Regions from separate parts of the Homo sapiens genome. Here region 1 is linked to region 2. The links come from fine-mapping of genetic effects on gene expression. A gene starts in region 2. The other region holds a variant in brackets. All regions are shown on one strand. Distances are between the middles of the regions. Region 1 overlaps ABCA4 (ATP binding cassette subfamily A member 4). Region 2 holds the start of ABCA4 (ATP binding cassette subfamily A member 4).

What was found. PIP is the estimated chance that this variant, and not a neighbour inherited with it, causes the effect.
Region 1: its variant is fine-mapped to the expression of ABCA4 in testis (GTEx, PIP above 0.99).

What each region holds. Positions count from the first base shown.
Region 1 is chr1:94,011,968-94,020,999 of GRCh38, reverse strand. ABCA4 (ATP binding cassette subfamily A member 4) reads left to right here. Exons shown (of 50, transcript NM_000350.3): 36 at 1,241-1,418; 37 at 5,146-5,261; 38 at 6,310-6,457. Among named protein-coding and RNA genes, the nearest start is that of ABCA4, 100 kb to the left of the region's middle. RefSeq lists an enhancer at 1-254. The variant G/A (reference allele first, on the strand shown) is at 4,652.
Region 2 is chr1:94,116,703-94,127,094 of GRCh38, reverse strand. ABCA4 (ATP binding cassette subfamily A member 4) reads left to right here and starts at 5,947. Exons shown (of 50, transcript NM_000350.3): 1 at 5,947-6,115. The coding sequence starts at 6,050.

The sequences.
Region 1 (9,032 bases), 110 kb after region 2:
TGGCTTTTGATAGCAAGTTGCTCCTGGAGCTTATACAATTATTATCTTTGCTATGTGCAAAGCAGCTGCCAGGAACTGGCAAAGTTCAGTAAACCTTTCAGCTCCCTCGGAGTAATTATCTTAGATTCCAGGAATTTCCTCAGAAGAGCATACTTTGGAGATGTCGACAGAGCTTTGCTACCCTCAAGCTGAGGCTCTTCTTGCACAGTTTCAGCCAGTGGAGACAGTGGCCTTGTGCGTTTTGTAGTATGTTCACTCTATTTGAGGCCTACATGGAGGAGGGGTTGGTAGGAGCACCTTTGTTAGTGCAAACTTCAGCAACGTTGTGGGGTCCTGATTTTACTATCCTAGCACACGCTGAGTGCCAGTGAACATGCCCAGGGTCATCCACTAAAACCTGGGCCTTGGCTCCTTGGTGTCTTCCTCTGGACACCCTAGGGCCCTAGACTGTCCTCTGTTAATTCTCACTCAGCCACACTTTCGTGTGTCTCCTTCCAGTCATTTGTTCTAAGCTTACTACGTGTATGGATGATATGATCTGTAGTTTTATCAAGGTAGTGACTACCACATAGGATACCTTTGTGGAAATTAGTAAAAATGCTCTTTTCTGCAGGTGGACACTGTCCCATGCCAGGGGTTATGGCTTGTACATAAAGTTCAGGCTGGCTTTAGCCCCAACTTACCCCTCAGCCAGATGCCTTCTATTTGTCCGAGGAAAGAATAAATAGAGCCAAGTCCCTGTACAACTTGCCTGCCCTCTTTTCACTTAAATTTACATCATGAACATTTCCTTGTGTTACGATGTACTTCTTGAAAATGTGATTTAACAAGATGATTATTAACAAAAGATAAATCTCACAGACCGTATGTCTGTCAACATAGAAAATTCAAGAGACTCTATAGACAGATTATTAGAGCTAATGAGAGCATTGCAGTACATAAGATTAATATAAACATCTATTTCTATACACCATAAAAATAATTAGAGAATATAATAAAAAGAAAGGTTGTCTAGAAATATTCACATGAAATAGAAAGGCAACCCGCAAATACCCATTTAACCTTGGTCCATATGGATTAAGACAGTTTAGTGGAGTGACAGCTTCAAGGTAGAGAAGAGGAACCTGGAGGCCACACCTGGGCGGGTGTAAGGCCTTCCCAAAGCCTGACTTTGTATCTTCTCCTCCTTCTGCTCTTCCCTCTTCATCGCCCTCTCCCTGTGTCTCTGGCCCTGCTGCAGGCTGACCACTTCAGTGGATGCTGTGGTTGCCATCTGCGTGATTTTCTCCATGTCCTTCGTCCCAGCCAGCTTTGTCCTTTATTTGATCCAGGAGCGGGTGAACAAATCCAAGCACCTCCAGTTTATCAGTGGAGTGAGCCCCACCACCTACTGGGTGACCAACTTCCTCTGGGACATCGTAAGTGTCAGTTTACAGCGCCTCCCTCCCCTCCGTGGGCCCAAGGTGGAGCTTGTGTGTGCTCTGAAGGACCAGACCAAGAGGGGAGGGGTTCTCACGGTGCCAGGGCTGCTGAAAGGCACTGGGCCAAGGGCCTTGTGTATCTGCTGTCCCTTGACATCTTCTCAGAAAGGCACAGAACTAGGAGCCCGAAGCTAGGAAAGGCTGTGGGGTGCAGCTTAACAACTGGTGAACGGGGGCTCTCTATGTCCTGCACTGAGGGGTCTTCTGACCCATCAAATAATCACTGCACCGCAGGCATGAGTCTGGCCTTCCTGGCATCAGTCTGGCGCTGAGAAGGTAATATGAAGGGGTCTTTCACCCCAAGTCCCCTTCTCAAATCCTGCCCCACCTTCAAAAGGGTAAAGGTAAAACTTTCCCTGTGGTAGGGTCACCAGATAAATACAGGACACCCAGTTAAATTTAATTTCAGATGATGAATAATTTTTAGTATAAGCATATGCTACTTCAAATATTGCACAGGACATATCTACACTAAAAAAAAAAAAAAAAAAAAAAAAAACCTGGTTGTTTATCTGAAACTCAAATTTCACTAGGCATCCTAGATTTTTATTTGCCAAATCTGGCAACCCCAGCCAGTGGCCAAAATAATAAGACCTTCACTTATTAGATTAACCACCGCTACAGGGAAAAATGAAGAAAAAATATTTATTAAATCAATAGCACACTACCACCTTCCTGACAACCAAGGTTGGTGGGGGTAGGGAGGGGTCAGGATAGCGTACCCTATTACAGGCTGCAGGGTCAAAGGAATTGGTAGTAAAGGCCTAGTTATAATGTAACAGGGATCATTATGACATCAACCCCAATTTATTCTAGGTGTCTTGAGTAGTAAAATCTCAACATTTTAAGACCAACATGAGCCTCCATTTCATGTGATGATAAGATATACCAACTGATGGAGACCAACACAAATGACCTTCTCATCCATGGTTTTTTAAAATGATGGTGAATATTGGAATTCCTGAAGATATGATTTCTATCTTACTCAGCTTAGTAAGCAGCTATCACTTAACAATACAAAACCAGAGATTATCAGTAGCAACTAAATTATTTCCTCTCTCTTCTGTCTACACGAGGAAACACTCATAAATGCACGGGGAGGAGGTCAGAACCTGAAAGCCTTTCTTTGGATAAGAGCATCAACTGCAGGTACCACATTGGCCCTGTGATGCTAATATAAAAGGAGCTAGGCCCACCGGTACCGAAAAGTTACTTAGAAAAGTGCGGAGGCTTTTAATTTTACTTTTTTTAAAAGATAAGAAATAGAATTTACACACTTGGGGCTGGCCCACGTGTTTCTGTGTGTGTGTATGTGTGCACGCACGCGCGTGTGCGCTTACAGGGATCTCTGAGCCTATGGAGAGAGATGTAGCTAGGATAGAGTGGACATCTGAGGTGGGAGGTGATACTAGCTGGCAGTCCAATGAAGGGGTAGAAGATGGTAGGCATCATGTTAGCAGGCTTTCTGATGCTCCAGAATTTTAAAGCTGGCCTGGAATCTCACCTCCGCGATCCATCATTTTGGAACTTAGGACCACCATTAGCCAGTGGCAAAAAAAAAGTTGAATGAAGGAACAAACAATTATTGCTTATGTAATTCACTTAGCACATATATGATGTTTTAAATTCTTATATGTGTCATCTATTTTTCTTTACTTTAAAATTTTGCAACAGTTACAGACTTATGGAAAAGTCACAAGTACAGTTGAAACCTTTTTTTCTTAGTCATTTGAAAGTAACTTCTCAGCAAGATGCCCCTTCTCATTTATTTCTCTCTTCCTGTCTCTCTCTCTCACACCCCTCAGCACGTCCGATGTATACTTCCTACAAACGAGGATACACCCCATACAACCACAACACAAACTGTCAACATGAGGAAACCAGCACTGATGTGTCATCACCACCTAATCCTCACACCCCACTCCTCTTTCGCCCATTGCCCCAGTGATGTCTTTCAGAAAAAAGGATCTAGCTCAGAATCATGCATGACATTTGATTGTGCTGTTTCTTTAGTCTCGTTCAGCCTGGAAGAGTTCCACAGTCTTTTGTTAACACTCATGGTCTTGACACTTTGAGGACTGCAGGCTGGTTATTTTGCAGAATGTCCCTTGGTCTGAGCTTGTCTGAGGTTTCCTCTTGCCCAGGTTGAGGGTGTGCATCTTGGCAGCAGTATCAGCAAACAGATGCTGTGTTCTCACTGCATCCTATCAGGTGGCTTCTGATTTCAATTTGCTCTGTTACTGATGATGTTCAATTCGGTCACTTAAGAAGGTGTCTGCTGAGCTTCTTCACTGTAAAATTACTCTTTTCCCCTTTATAATAAATACAAATTTCAGGTAGAGGCACTTCAAAGATATATAAATATCCTATTCATTATACAATTTTCCATTTATTCATCCATTTATTTATCTCTGTATGCAGTCATGGTTCATGTGTTAATCAATGGACTATGATCCAAGACTATCATTATTTATTTTGATATTCACATTATCCCCACTGTGGTCAGTGGGGGGCCGTTGAAGCTGGCTTCTGTATCGTCTTGACTTGGGTCCTCATGCCCCTGGACCTCCTCCATGCTCAATGGCACAGCAAGATATTCCAGGCTCATCCTTCCATTATCCCCATTCCTACCCTCTCCCCAAGAAGCCCTGGTTCCTGCCAGTGGGAAGTGGCCCTCAGAAGCCAAGGTCTGAGTGCTAGATATGTTCATTGCCTCTGGAGCACCATTGGTCCCAGGCCTTCTCAGTGATAGAACTAGGGAAGATATGGATGTACACACACAGGTATGCACACACCTCTATCTATAGTTCTCTATCTACCTATACAGTGAACACTATGAGCTCTCCAAAACCAACTCCACAGGGCTCATTCTAGTTTTTTTTCTTTCCACATCTGTAACTCCCTTCTCCAACAGTGAGACGCTGGCTTCTCTCACTCCCAACTCATTTATCTACCGGACCTATACACCTGAACAGTGCCCAACTCTGCCACCATCCCCTCCCCATGTGGATGCCGTCCTCTCCCTGCTCCAGCTGCCTCTGCTGCATGCAGGTCCTCCTCGTTCTGCTCTGGCTCTGATACCCTGCACCAGATCAGCCTCCTGTAAGGATATCTTTCTCATCCCGTTGAGGCCTCCACACCCCACGGCAGGTTGCCCCCTGAGGAAGCCC[G/A]TCTCTGGTTCTTGCCCTGCTCCTGATCACCATGGCTCCTCCCCTAACCCCACTGTTGCCGTCCCCTTTCTGTGCCCAGTATAGTGGCTGTAGGACTAAATTGTTTAAAAAGGGTATCATTATTTATTTGAGCTTTGTGAAGCCAAGAACTAGGCTTTAAGTTTTTCTGAATTCTGAAGACATGCTTAGAAAGAAGAATCAACAAAACTTTATGACCAAATAGAAAGAGTGAGAGACCAGGCAGAATTTTGTAATTGATCCTTTCAAAAGATACAAACTAAAGGTTCCCTTGGCAGGGAGGTAGGGCATGGGGTGGGGTAGGAGGACTAGTGACAGCTTAACATATGTTTGCCAACCAAGAACTGTTTAAAAAGCAAGTCGAATCAGAATCCCAGACCCTACGAGCTGGAGGAGCCTGGCCCCACCCCTCATTTTGCAGAGCTGGCAGCAGGTCTGAGAGGTTAAGTGACTTGCTCTCCTCTTCTCTTTCCGAGATGAATTATTCCGTGAGTGCTGGGCTGGTGGTGGGCATCTTCATCGGGTTTCAGAAGAAAGCCTACACTTCTCCAGAAAACCTTCCTGCCCTTGTGGCACTGCTCCTGCTGTATGGGTAAGCCGTTTGGGCCATTAGCTAATGCCTCTGAAGAGAAGCCTGGTGGTGGGGGTGGGGGATCATCTCCTGACAGAAAACCTGGGCTGTCCTGTGGTGGTAGCACCCACAAGTTTAGCTTCCGGCCCCAGGTAGGGTCTGAAGCTGATAACCAGGGATCTGTCTGGCTTCTGATTCTGACTCCACTGACAGAGGTATCTCTGAGGCCTGGTCCTGTCAGTGACAATGAGAGAAGTCCCACATGATCTGAATCTCCTACTCAAACTGAGGCCTTGACCAAAGCCTGGGGGCAGCCATTCCCCAACCCCTCACCCAGCTCTGACTCTCACTCATCTGTGGCCAATCTGTCCACCTCAGTGTCCCCATGTGAACTGGCCAAGAGTTACCGCCCACAGTAGAAGACTCCGGCCAAAAAGCTCCTCCTGAGTCAGGGACAGAGGATGACACAGGGGTTACATCAGCAGAGTTACAGGGCCCAGCATGCAACTTTCTTTCCCACGTGTGTAAATTTGAATGAGTAATTCATCCATCTCGGCCTCAGTTTCCTCATCTGTAAAAGAAAATAGTGATCCTGGTCCTTCCTCTGTGGGCCAGTAGAGCCTTGCCAAAGCATTGTTCTCCACATCTTTCTCTTGGAAATAGAGAATTTGGGAACCAACCTGACTATAAGCTGTGAAGATGAGCTCACTGGGCTCATCTGAGATGACCTCAGCTGGGCTTTGCTGACCCAGGCTAGAGTGGGAGGTGTTGCAGGCTGGAGAACCCTCCTATGAATTGTACAGGGCTTTGTAGTTTACAGAGTATATACACAGCTAGCAGCCCATTTGCTCCTCACAAAACCCCATGAAGTGGTCAAGGCAGGCATCATTATCTCCATTTAAAGTTGAGGCACAGAGACCAACAAATGGAGTATCTCTCTGGTCCCCTGGGACTCTGGCCAGTTCACACACATCACCTCAGGTGTAAGGGGAGTGCATTATATCCAGACGTATTGTAGGTGGAATGGAATGTGGAACTCCATCACTCTGAGTTGTCTCATTTCACACAGATGGGCGGTCATTCCCATGATGTACCCAGCATCCTTCCTGTTTGATGTCCCCAGCACAGCCTATGTGGCTTTATCTTGTGCTAATCTGTTCATCGGCATCAACAGCAGTGCTATTACCTTCATCTTGGAATTATTTGAGAATAACCGGGTGAGCATAACTTTCTTGGCTTTTTTGTTTGATTAGTAGGATAGTAGAGTATGTGTTGGTCGAGCAGAGCCAGGGGCAAGCATCGTACATGTAGCAGCTGTATGCGGATGAGTGCCACTTTCTTCCTCCCTACCCCCGACCCTGCCTCCTTTCCTTCCTTCCTTCCTCCCATCCTTCCTTCCTCTTTCCTTCTTCTCCTCCCTCCTCCCTCCTTCCCCCGTCCCTCCTTCCTTCCTTTTTCATTGCTTCCTTCCTTCCTTCGTCCCTCCTTCCCTTCCTCTTTCCTTCTGCCCTCTCTCCCTTTTTCCTTTCATCCTCCCTCCATCCCTCCCTCCATCCTTCCTTCTTTCTTCCTTCTTTCCTTCCTATAAGCACCTTTTTCATTTCTGTGCTCTGAATGAAATGGTTTTCTGTGTTTATTCTGCAAGCAAAACTTGATTCTTGCAATAAACTTTAAGCTTTGCTTACTCTTTCAGAAAGGTTTTCTCAGGGACTTTGGGTGTTGGGTTTTACACACACACACATCAATACATTTGGGTAATTTCAAAATCTAAAAGGAACAAAAAGGCATACAATGAAAAAATCTCCTTCCTACCCCTGTTTCCCACTCATGCAGTTCTCTTCTCCAGAGGCAAACTCTTACTTGAGTTTCCTGTGTGCTCTGGAGACACATCAGCAGATCCCTATACGGTCTTTCTCCCGCTTTCTTATGGAAATTGTAACACTCTGACATATACTATTCCTTGGGCAAGTTAATCTTGATGAAGAGACTGGGTGTTCTCCATGCTGAATGCCTCACTTTTATGAGCTGCCAAGCCCAGTTGTCCCTTCCACCTGACCTCCCCCTGTCCAGAGACAGATGGCCAAACTGAATCATAAAAAGAGGGGGAAAAAAAGAAGGCAGTCGCTGCAGGGCTGTCTTTACTCCACACTCCACACTCCCAGTCCCCACCGCTGTGTCTGAGTCCTGGCTGTGGCTGTCCTTGGAACATTTGCCTCACCACGTGCCTGTGTCCCCAGGCGCCTCAACCTTTCCTCTCCTCATTAGCTCTTCCCAGTTCAGAGGGTGGGACCGGCCAGCACATCTGCACTGCTGCCCTGCCACACCCACCTCCACCTGCCTCTGGGCCCCACTGGGGAACACAGGACAAATCTGTGCGGAGGCCCCACCATGAACCGCCCAGACCCGTGGACCCCTGAGACTGACTCTTTCCAGATCTTGTTAGGGTTTCGTGGCTGCTAGGCAAGTAACGAAGCCTCATCTGTCCCATGAATGATAAGAAATTCAGCATGTCAGAGTCAGACTCTGGAAAGGCGGGGGGATAAGAACACAGCCCCAGCAGATGGCCAGAGCACCCAGGTGACTGAAAGTGCTGCTTTGCAGAGCTGTGTTTGCCACAGGCTCACAGCCCACTAAGTCTTAAGACAGTTTTCCTTCAGAATAATTAAATAGCCAGCTTAAAGCAACTCAGAACATTTTCCCCTCTGAGGCTGCACCCATTTAGCCAACATTTGCTAAGCACCCGCCTTCAAAAACCTGGTATTTTCATGTAAATTATCCGATACACAGCTGCTATGGAAACCCCCAGTATCCCACAGGAAGCTCCCCAGCTCCCAGCAGCTGCCGGCCCGTGTGAGATCAGGAGGTCTTTACCAGCTGAACACCACGTGCCGGGTGTGTGCTGATATAAACAAGCGTGGCCCACTCGTCCTGCCCTCCAGAGGCTCCCGTTCCAGTCGGAAAAGGACCTGCCCACGAAGTTTGCAACGATATAAGCCACAGTGTATGATCCTCCATAATACAGCGTGTGACAGAGCAGCAGAGGAGCGAGGCAGATAACATGCTGCAGGCCAGAGGCAGCGGGAAGAGCCAGGCTGCAGGGGCTGGGGGAGCCGTGGTGGAGGAAGTTCAATTTCAGCCTGTAGATTTCTATTAGCCCATTTAATAAATAATGAAGTGCCTACTCTGAGCTAATCATTGTGCAGGTATTTAGGAAGGACAAAAAAATAATTAGGACTCAGTGCCCACCCTCCAGGGGCCCACTGACTAGTAGAGAAAGTAGGCAGATTTTTAAAAAATTAATCATGGGAATGTGATAAGTGCTGGGAGAGAGGAATGGATACTTTCTCATGGGAATCTTGGAAGGCTTGTAAGGGAAGGCACTCTCTGAGCCAGCTGTCTAAAGAAGAACAGGAATCTTTAAGAAAGCAGAAGGGAAAAGAGCATTCTTTCCTGCTTGGAGCAATAGGTAACAGCCTGCACATGCCCAGGCCTAGAGGCCAAAGAGCACAGTGATTCCAGAAAGAGTGGGGAGAAAGGGTAGGCAGGGAAGGATGAGGTAATGTGGGCGCAGGTGTGGAGGCTGGAGAGGGAGGAGGTTGTGGGACTGGGAGGAGCCAGATGGAATGGACAGCAGTGGCCCAGCCAGGAGCTATGCTGGCCTCGTACGCCTCGATGTCCCTTCTATTTTCTCAGGGGAGGCTCTGCCCAACATGCCAAGTCCGACCACTTGAAAACAAGTCCCTGGCTTAACACAGACCCCAGAGAGAGTCTCCAACCCTCCTCTCCCTAGAC
Region 2 (10,392 bases):
AACTATGTGATATTGCTTCTATTTTTTAAAACAAAGGAAAAATATTTTTACAGTTCCACTTTGAGGCGCTTTAGAAAGAATTCTGGTAATGCTGAGTGAACAATAAATAAATTTTAAACAAAAGTCGATTCAGAATTGGAAACAAATATTTCACTTGATTCATTGGCCATGAAAGGATTTGGAGAATCAGATGATATCATTTTAATGTTTTTGTAACCTATGAAAGCACTTCCGTTCCAGCTAGTAATGTGCAATGGTTGATGTATTTTGAACTTGCCACACATCTTCCTACTTGGCTTGACACTGCTTAGCAAGTTTTGAAAACTTGTAAGCCTTTTCTTAAGAGATGCAGGAATTGCTGATATTGGGTATTTTGGATTTCTTTTACTTTCTTGAAGATACTCATGACAGTACCTCTCTTCTTTAAATTCTGCTGCAACTCCATTGGATTATGTTAGTATTTATAATACTTATATTATTATTGCAATCATGGACCTACCCAGGAATTTTATTCATATACTATGGAAGCCAAATTTGAACTAATTTAGGCAAAAGGAGGTTTTATTGAAAGGATTGGAGTGTCTTACTGCTAATCTGCCTGAAGAGGAGGGAACAGCTGTCTCCCAGGGACAGCTGGAACCAGGGACTCAGCTACAACTGGGACCTATGCTCTCTACCTCGGCCTCTCTGTGCATTCCCTTCATTCTCTGTTACTGCAGATCAGATTTCTCCTAGTGGTGGGGAACACAGCCTCAGGTCCTCTGCTAGCCTATATGGCATTTTTATGCAAATTAGAAAAGGTGCTCCTCTGGGTGGATGCAGCCTCGTGGTTGTATAGTTTGGTGAGCAGAAGACGCCTTTGTGAAAGGAAAAAGGTACCTCCTTTGATAGGATGCAGCCCTATACCAGGGTCCCGGGCTTGTTTAGCAAAAACAAGTGAAATCCAGTCCCCAGTCTTTGCTTAGGCCCCTACGTACACAAACTGAACCTAGTGACCCAGCATGGCCTCTAATTTCTCAACACTTCTGTACTTCTGTAATGATTAACCCATGCTTCTCACAGATCCATGCCCCAAATTTCTGTGAATAGGCCCTGACTGGCCCAGCTAAGATCATGTGACTGCACATGACCAGTCCACTTTGGCATTAACAAGCCTACTGCAGACTCTTCCCTTGGTGTTGGAGTCACTCCTAGAAAAGAGCAAATCTTTGTGAGCCAGGCAGTCAACCTGCTGGCAGCTTCCACTCAGCCTTGGAGTTTTTTCTATGTGTAACTTTCATAAACTGAGCCTTATTTATTTATTTTTTGCACTATCATCTCATGAAATATTATTGCGTAAGCTGAGGAAACATGTTATTCATGATGACTGGAGTTTCAAGTTTTAATTGTACAATGATTTAGTTTTGAGTTTGGTAGAAATAAAATCAAATTTAAAAATCAGATATTTTTCATCTTACATTATGATGTCCCAAAACTGCCTTTATGCTTGTGACATAGATTCATAATGTCTTCTCATTCCACCTGTAATCACTGTTTGAAATAAACATATGTCTAATGATATATTTGGGGACATTCTATTTTCTTCAGCTTGTTGCAAGTGAATTGATGGTGATCTTTTGGTATTGGTTTCATTATCAAATTTATCTCCACTCCAAAATTACAGTAATTTCAAAGTAATTTAGTCTATATATTTTTCCATAGCTTTTCTTCCAAATAGAAACTGTAAAAAGTTATAAATTACTTCTCTCCACTACTGAATTTTTGTTTGCAGAATAACTGATGTAAGTAGCAGAATGCCTCTTCCTAGTTCAACCCTCAGGAATAGAAGTGAGAAGATCTTTAAAACTTCACCATTTTCCTTGACTTGTTTATAATTCTGAATGTAAATGTGAATTGATATGGTCTATCGCTTAACACCACAACTCTTAATCTATGTGCAGGGTCGTAGCTCAAAACTACTGCCAGGACCACATCAATTTCATATTCACCCTGATCAATGTGTATTAATGGTGATAACTATGAGAATGAAATGTACAGTTATCAGTATCATTTTTGACTCACTAGGTATATCCTCAGAAATATATGAAAAAACTAAACACAGCTTTTAGTTTGACATAATTTTTAAACAACTGGAGTTACCTTGGGAGAAAAATCCTACCAAATATCTATAATATTGAAAGAGTAAAAAAGAGTTAAATGTCCTTAACATCATTAATCATTAGGGACATGCAAATCAAAACCACAGTGAAATACCATCTCACACCCTTTAGGATGGTGGTGATAAGAAGAAAAACAGAGCATAACAAGTGTTGGCCAGGATGTGGAAAAGCTGGAACCATTGTGCACTGCTGATTGGAAAGTACAATGGTGCAGCTGCTAAGGGAAATAGTATGGTAGTTCTTCAAAAAATAAACAGTTATACCATTTGATTCAGCAGTTTCACTCCTAGGTATATACCCCAAAGAATTGAAAGCAGAATCTCAAATATTTGTACACCTATGTTCATAGCAGCATTACTCACAATAGCCAAAAGGTGGAAACAACCCGAATGACCCTGGATGGACGAATGGATAAACAAAATGAGGTCTATACTGACAATAGGATATTAATTGACCTTAAAAAGGAAAGAAATTCTGGCCGGGCACGGTGGCTCACACCTGTAATACCAGCACTTTGGGAGGCCAAGGCAGGCAGATCACCTGAGGTTGGGAGTTTGAGACCAGCCTGACCAACATGGAGAAACCTCATATCTACTTAAAATACAAAAAAAAAAATTAGCCAAGCATGGTGGCGCCTGCCTGTAATCCCAGGTACTCAGTAGGCTGAGGCAGGAGAATCGCTTGAACAGGAAGCAGAGGTTGCAATGAGCTGAGATTGCACCATCACACTCCAGCCTGGGCAACAAGAGTGAAACTGCATCTCAAAAAAAAAAAAAACAAAAAAAACAAAAAAAGAAATTCTGACACATCTGCTATGGTCTAAATTATGTGTTCCTCTAAAATTCATAAATTGAAATCCTAACCCCCAAGGTGATGGTATTAGGAGGTGAGGCTTTGTGGAGGTGATTAGGTCATGAGGGTACAACCCTCGTGAATGGGACTAGTGCCCTCATAAAAAGAAGCCCAAGAGAGACCCCTTTTCCCTTCCACTGGATGAGGTCACACCAAGAAGTTACCATCTACATGTCAGGAAATAGGCCCTCACCAGACACCAAATCTATTGGCACCTTGATCTTGGACTTCCCAGCCTGCAAAGCTGTGAGAAATAAGTTCCTGTTGTTTATAAACCACCCAGTTTATGGTATTTTGTTATAGCAGCTCAAACAGATTAAGATGGCTTGCTACAACATAGATGAACTTTAAAGATTATGCTTTTCTATGATTCCACTTAGATGGGGTACCAAGAGTAGTCAAGTTCATTGAGACAGAAAATAGAGTGGTTGGCAGGGGCTAGGGGGAGGGAACTCTGGGGAGTTAGTGTTTAATGGATACAGAGTTTCAGTTTTGCAAAATGAAAAAGTTCTGAAGATGGATGGTGCTGATGGCTGCACAATATGAATGTATCAACACTACTCAACTGTACACTTAAAATAAGGTTCAAATGATACATTTTATTTCATGTGTGTGTCAATCTCAACAAACAGATTTGTTCAGGCAAGGAAACTGGTTAGATGCGAATAATACTATTAGAGCATCATCAATTGAATATTAACAAAGTGCTCATAGTTTAACTTTCTAGCTCAAGGAAGAATGGACCATTTTGAAACTATGACAGAACATTACTTATATAGCTGATGTCTTTGGGAATTGGAAGGAGGCATATTCCTTCACCAGCTGTGGCTCCCCTTCAGCAACCTCATATACTCTCCAAGCTTCTCTTTCCTGGGTCACCTGTTTAATCACTCCCGGGACTTAATCTTCCACCTATATGTTGACCACTCACAAATCTATGTCTCCATCTCACAAGCTTATTCTTGACTCCAGACCCAAGTATTCAACTGCCTGCTGAATACGTGTGGTCAGATGTCATAGAACTTCAGCTTCAGTATATCAAATGCAAACCCCTGTTCCCCCCAACTGCCTCCTACTCCCCACTGGCCTTCCTCTGGCATTCCCTCCTCAGTTATGAGCACCACCGTCTCACTAGCCAGCCAGTCAAGCCCCAAACTCCATCTAGCTGACTTCTGCCTCTTCCTCACCACCCTCTTCCAGTAACTCATCAGGCACTGCTGTGTCTCATTCCTTCCTATCCCTCCAGTCCCTCCCCTTCTCTCCATCATGGCTGTCACTGCATGGTTCAGGCTCTCTGGCTCCCCCCAAACCACCCCCACATTGCTGCCGAGGTGAACTGACTACTCTTGGCAGCCACTGGATTAAAATCTTTCATCATCTTCAGCATGATAAAACCCATATCCTTTAGCATGTAACAAGGTCTTAATGATTCTGCCAGAGCTTGCTTGGGGGTAGCCTGCACTTGTGGGCCACTCCAGTCACTTCACAGGTGCTCAGTAAATCTCAGTTGAATCAGTCATCATCATCATCATCATCATCATCATCATCATCATCATCAATTTTTCAGTCTGGTTCCTGTCTCCTTTTCCAGCATCCTCCATTCATAGCCTCATAGCCTTCACTCCAGCCATGTTTCACTTGTGGTTTTCCTGGGCAAGATAAGCTATTCCTCCCTGTCTTTGCAGAGTTTAAATGACTCACTTGTTCAAGTACCCACCGTTGCCATGTGGGACCGTGAGCAAAGTACTTAATCTCACTAAGCTTCACGTTCCTCATCTGTAAAACAGCAAATATGGACCTCACAAAATTGTAGTGAGGCTAAAATGAAATAACATATGCAAAAGCAGTTTATAAATAATAAACTTACTATAAAATATTATTTTGTAATTCTGCAAGCTTGTCTTAAATGCCATCACCTCCAAGGAGCCTTTTTGCCATCATAAGCAGAAACTATCTCTCTCTTCTTGGAAGCTCCACCATGCACAGCCTATGGGCCCTCATCACACTCCTTGAGTTATTCGAGTTCAAGTCCCGTGTTTACAACCAGACCGCAAACTCTATGAAGTCAGCATCCATTCCTCTCTGTGGTTCTCCCTCCGCCCCATCCAGGTCTCAAGGGTCTAGAGTCTTTCAAAGAGAACACATTCTGAGATTTGAGGAGGCAGAGACAAAAAGTTCCACTGCGAAGTGCCAGGGAGGCTTCTGTTTGGGGTGTCCCTTGGGATCACAGATCCCCCACCTGGTGATGAGTCAACCCAGCACCACCCCATTGCAGGGCTGGAATGACAGTAATGGGCCCACCTGCTGCCTCTCCTCATACCCGCACCCCAGTCAGACATTGCAAGTCAGTCACGGCTCTGTCCTGCTGGGCCTGGAGTGTTCCAGTGCCTTTTCCATCACAGCACCAAGCAGCCACTACTAGTCGATCAATTTCAGCACAAGAGATAAACATCATTACCCTCTGCTAAGCTCAGAGATAACCCAACTAGCTGACCATAATGACTTCAGTCATTACGGAGCAAGATAAAAGACTAAAAGAGGGAGGGATCACTTCAGATCTGCCGAGTGAGTCGATTGGACTTAAAGGGCCAGTCAAACCCTGACTGCCGGCTCATGGCAGGCTCTTGCCGAGGACAAATGCCCAGCCTATATTTATGCAAAGAGATTTTGTTCCAAACTTAAGGTCAAAGATACCTAAAGACATCCCCCTCAGGAACCCCTCTCATGGAGGAGAGTGCCTGAGGGTCTTGGTTTCCCATTGCATCCCCCACCTCAATTTCCCTGGTGCCCAGCCACTTGTGTCTTTAGGGTTCTCTTTCTCTCCATAAAAGGGAGCCAACACAGTGTCGGCCTCCTCTCCCCAACTAAGGGCTTATGTGTAATTAAAAGGGATTATGCTTTGAAGGGGAAAAGTAGCCTTTAATCACCAGGAGAAGGACACAGCGTCCGGAGCCAGAGGCGCTCTTAACGGCGTTTATGTCCTTTGCTGTCTGAGGGGCCTCAGCTCTGACCAATCTGGTCTTCGTGTGGTCATTAGCATGGGCTTCGTGAGACAGATACAGCTTTTGCTCTGGAAGAACTGGACCCTGCGGAAAAGGCAAAAGGTAACAGTTACTGTCTGTGGTTTAAAAATGAGGTGTGGAGCAAATAAACAGGTTGGAAGTGTGGGGTGGGGTGGTGGGGTAGGGTGGTGGGGCAGGGTGGGGGGTTGTGAGCAGTCAGTGGGCTTGTCGCCGATTAGCACTGAAGCAGTGTTTAGCTGGACGGCCTTTCTGTGGGCCCCTCTGACAGTGCCCTTCCCAGGAAGATGTGTTTCTCTGTCCTCAGCCACATGAAAATCTTTTGCCTACCGTGCCTGTCAATCCATTGCCTGCCCGCCCCTCCCCCACCCCCCGTTTTACACCTGCCTGTCCAGTCTACCGCTCTCTAGGGCATCCACGCTGAGCAGTGGGAAGAACTTTAAGCCCTGAAGAGCAGGCCAAAGGCAAGCAAGAACCCCCTCGAACAGCTTCCCAGCTTAGTGAGGCCTTATTTCATTGATTCTCTGAGGCACATTGTTTTTTCACATGTTAGCATTTCTGAAATTGGGATGCAGCTCACGATCAAGTCACAGTTTAACTGGACACATTATTTTTCTTTCTTAGTGGTGCAGAAAAGTAACAGTGTGTCTTACAATTGACTGCGTCCTAGATTCTGTGAGATGCAATACGTTATTAACCATCACGCACATTTCCTGAACTCTTTCAATGAGCAGACACCAGCCTGGGTTAGACTGGAGCCCTAAAAGCACGACACAGATTCCACCCTGGACTGGCTTCTGTTCTGCCTGGGAAAACCCAAAGTACGTTTGGAGACCAAGAGCAACATAAAGTAGCATAGGTGGAATAGTCCATGAGAAGTGCGAGCAAAAGGTGCCGGAGATCAGAGAACACCAAGACTGTACTTGTAAATGACAACTGGCTTTGTGCAATTTTTTCTGGGAAAGGATAAGGAGTGACTATAGAACTGTAAAGAAAGAATGCACTTTGCTACAGCCTTGCAGAGTTGTGCAAATGCCGATGACTAAAGGAGCTGAAAGAGGAAGGAGGGGATAAGGGATGGGGGCTGGGTAGGGGTGAGATTAGGACCCTGGGAGCTGCAAGCCACTGGAGAGATCAGGAGGAAAGGGAGGGAGACCTGCTTTAGGCGAGAAGAGAACAGTATTTGTTCCAAATCTCGGTTCAGAATAAGTTCATGTAGGTGATGGGGCCAACTGGAACAGGTGAAGGCCTATGAATGAGTGTCTCAGTTAGGGTCTCCTTAGAGTTTAATATGAAAAGGTGTTAGCTAAGTACAGAGCTGGTACCTGAGAGAGTAAAAGGAAACTCTAAGGTATCATGGAGGTAGCAATTGCAGGACACAGCTCCCACCCCTAGGGCTGAGAGAACCAAGGGAAGAGACAGGAATTATTAAGACTTGGAGCATAGATGAGAGGTCTGTGGAGCTGACATTAGGACTTGGGAGGAAGGCGTGCATGGAGGCTGCTGCTGGATCTCTGAACCTGACCTCGGGTCTGGACCCCTGAGGAGAAAGCCCTGGCAGGTTGGTGCATGTGGGGCCGAGGGACAATAGCTTAACAACCAGCATAAAAGAGAGCAGCATGGGACACGCTTCAACCATGCGCATGGATGGCTCCAAAACCTGTGTGTGGCTGGCCCAGGACGCAGGGAGGCTGCAGGGGGAAGAGACAAGTTAAACCTGACTTGTCTGGGAAGCACCATTGTCCTCAGGTCACTTTCCTCTGTCAAGCCTGGTGCTGAAGTTATCTGTTGTCTCCAGGGGCCAAGTATTAAGAGTAATCAGAAACTCAGTCCTTTCTTCTAGGAGCTTCCCTTCTTGCATGAAAATCCTGATAAAACTGGAAAAAAAAACCTCATGATTAAATTTTTTCATGTATTCATTCTTTCCTTCTATCAAAAAATAATCTCCAGGCACCGTGCTAGGTTCATTGGTATACAATGGCAACAAGACCTCCCAGCCCCTGCCTATGTGAGGCATCTGTGGACTGCGGAGGAAAATCCAATATGCCATTGTTCTCTCTTTCCCATAAGAAATTACAATTCTCAGTTCATTTTATTCTCACTGTGCTCTTTGTGACCCTCAAAGGGGGTCACATGATAACAGGACTGTAGCTGCTGGCCTAAAATGAGCCCATTCCTGTGGCGCTCATGTCGCTGTGACAGAGAATAACCCTGTTTTCAGAATGCTCTGGTGCCCTCCCTCTCAATCTGGCCTTTCGCTGGCATGGGTGGGCGACTCCTGCTCAGGGACTCTGCCTTCTCCACAGTGTGCTCCCAGGGAGATGGAGCCACTCGGGCTGAGGGCCTTGGCCAGGGCACCTCCCAGGGCTGGGCCTGGTCTGGGCTGGCGTTCACTGGATGCCATCCTGATGGCCTGGAAATTGAGATTTCTGTCTGGCACGCCTCCCGATGGCTCCCCACCTGCTACCACATTCCAGGAGCTTCCAGGATGTCTGGGTAAGACAGAGGCACCCCCAACAGATTCAGTAGCTCTGAGAGGGATCTGTGGCTCCTTCCTAAGCTTGCGGTTCTTCTGGAAACTTCTGCCTCTAGAAGATGGTCCCTCTAAGAAAAGTACAACCACCCAGCCCATAATTCAGCTCCCAGGTTTTCCCTCAAACCTCCATGTCTCCTGTAAGCAGAGCAAGAGTAAAATCAGATACCAAATTTCCTCATTCCTCAGCTCCCAATCCCTAAGGGCATAAGATGAAAATCTTCAGATCTCTGCTTTCCTCCCTCTTTTTTTCTTCCTCTGTTAACATTTGTCAAGTGTTACTAAGTGTCTGGCACTGTACTAAGTGCATCACCTCCCTGAACTCTCCGAACAGTTCCACGAGAGAGGCCTCTCTGTGATCCCCCCGGTACTGATGAGGTCACTGAGGCTCCAGAGAAGGATTAGTAACTGGTGGGGTTGGACCTGGGATTCACACCCATGCTGCGTGACCCAGGACAGGCAGGCATGGCCGTTACACCACACTGACCCCCGTGGATCGAGATCTATCCAATAGTCTGGTCACTGATATCACTAAGATAGAGTGGCCATATAATTTATCATCCAATCAGGGCAGTTTTGCAAGTGAAAGGGAGCACTATTAATAATTGCACTGGGACAATAAATGTAAACCAACACTGGACCTGGAAAACTGGGACGTGTGTTTGCCCTATACCAAGGTAAGCTAGACACAGCCACTGCCTTCATGGAGTTCAGAACCAGGCAGGGGCGGCTCCCACGTATAATTACTGTGCAGCACAACGTGGAGACCGTGGAGTAGAAGGAAACACGGATGGGAGGTGAGGAGGAGGTCTGTGAGCTCAGAGGAGGCACCGGGGCTGGAGAGGGTGAGAGAAGACTTCCCAAGGAGTTCATCCTGATAACGTGCATTCCCAATGACGAGCGCTCTCTCCACTGCACAAGACAAGTATACATCTGCCCGTGTTGGCTGTGGACCTGGCGCTGTGTCAGGGAGGGTTTATGAAGATCACTAGGTGGGTCTCTTGGTGTCATCCCTTCATCCCAGCTTCTGGGTTAGGATGGATATCTGTGGGGGGGCCTGAGGACTCATGAAAGTGGGGCGCTAATCATGTTTTGGACACCACACCCTGGAGCACCTGGGACAGCTGTGGCCTTTGTCCTGGGTTCAGCATCAAGCCGAGGATGTGGCAAGTAAAGAGAGGCTGGGCACCAACTCCAGTGTACCCAGGCTCCGGGTCATGTTTGTCCAGGCTAAGAATTCTGTCCTGGTTCTCAGTGCAGAAGGAAGAATCATGGGGCTCATTTTAGGCCTTGGCTGCCTTCTGTTAAATTGAAAACAGAGCAGGAAGGAAGAAAATTTAACAGGCTCAGTTCTAAAACAACAAGCACAACTGTGCCCTTGCCAGAAACCCCTCCTCCCCATGTTGATTGAATGGTAAAGAGAGGAGGGGAGGTGAGAGGGAGAGAGAGAGAGAGGAAGAGAGAGAGAAAGGAAAGAAAGGAAAGAAGAAGAAAGAAAGAAAAGGAAAGAAAGAAAGAAAGAAAGAAAGAAAGAAAGAAAGAAAGAAAGAAAGAAAGAAAGAGAAAGAAAGAAAGGAGGGAGGGAGGGAAGGGGAAAAGAAAAGAAAAGAAAAAGAAAAAAAGAAGGAAATACCAGTTTGGGAAAAAAGAATTTTCCACCAGCCCTTCTGAGCCTTGGCTGGGCTTAATTAAAGTTACAGACATGTGTAAAGGGCAGGGTAGGGGGAGTCTGAGCTGCTGAGAAAACATGTTTTTAATTATACTGTGGAATTTCTCCCTGGGGTATGCCTGTACGCAGTTAAGCGTCAAGGACAGGGATGCCGCTCTG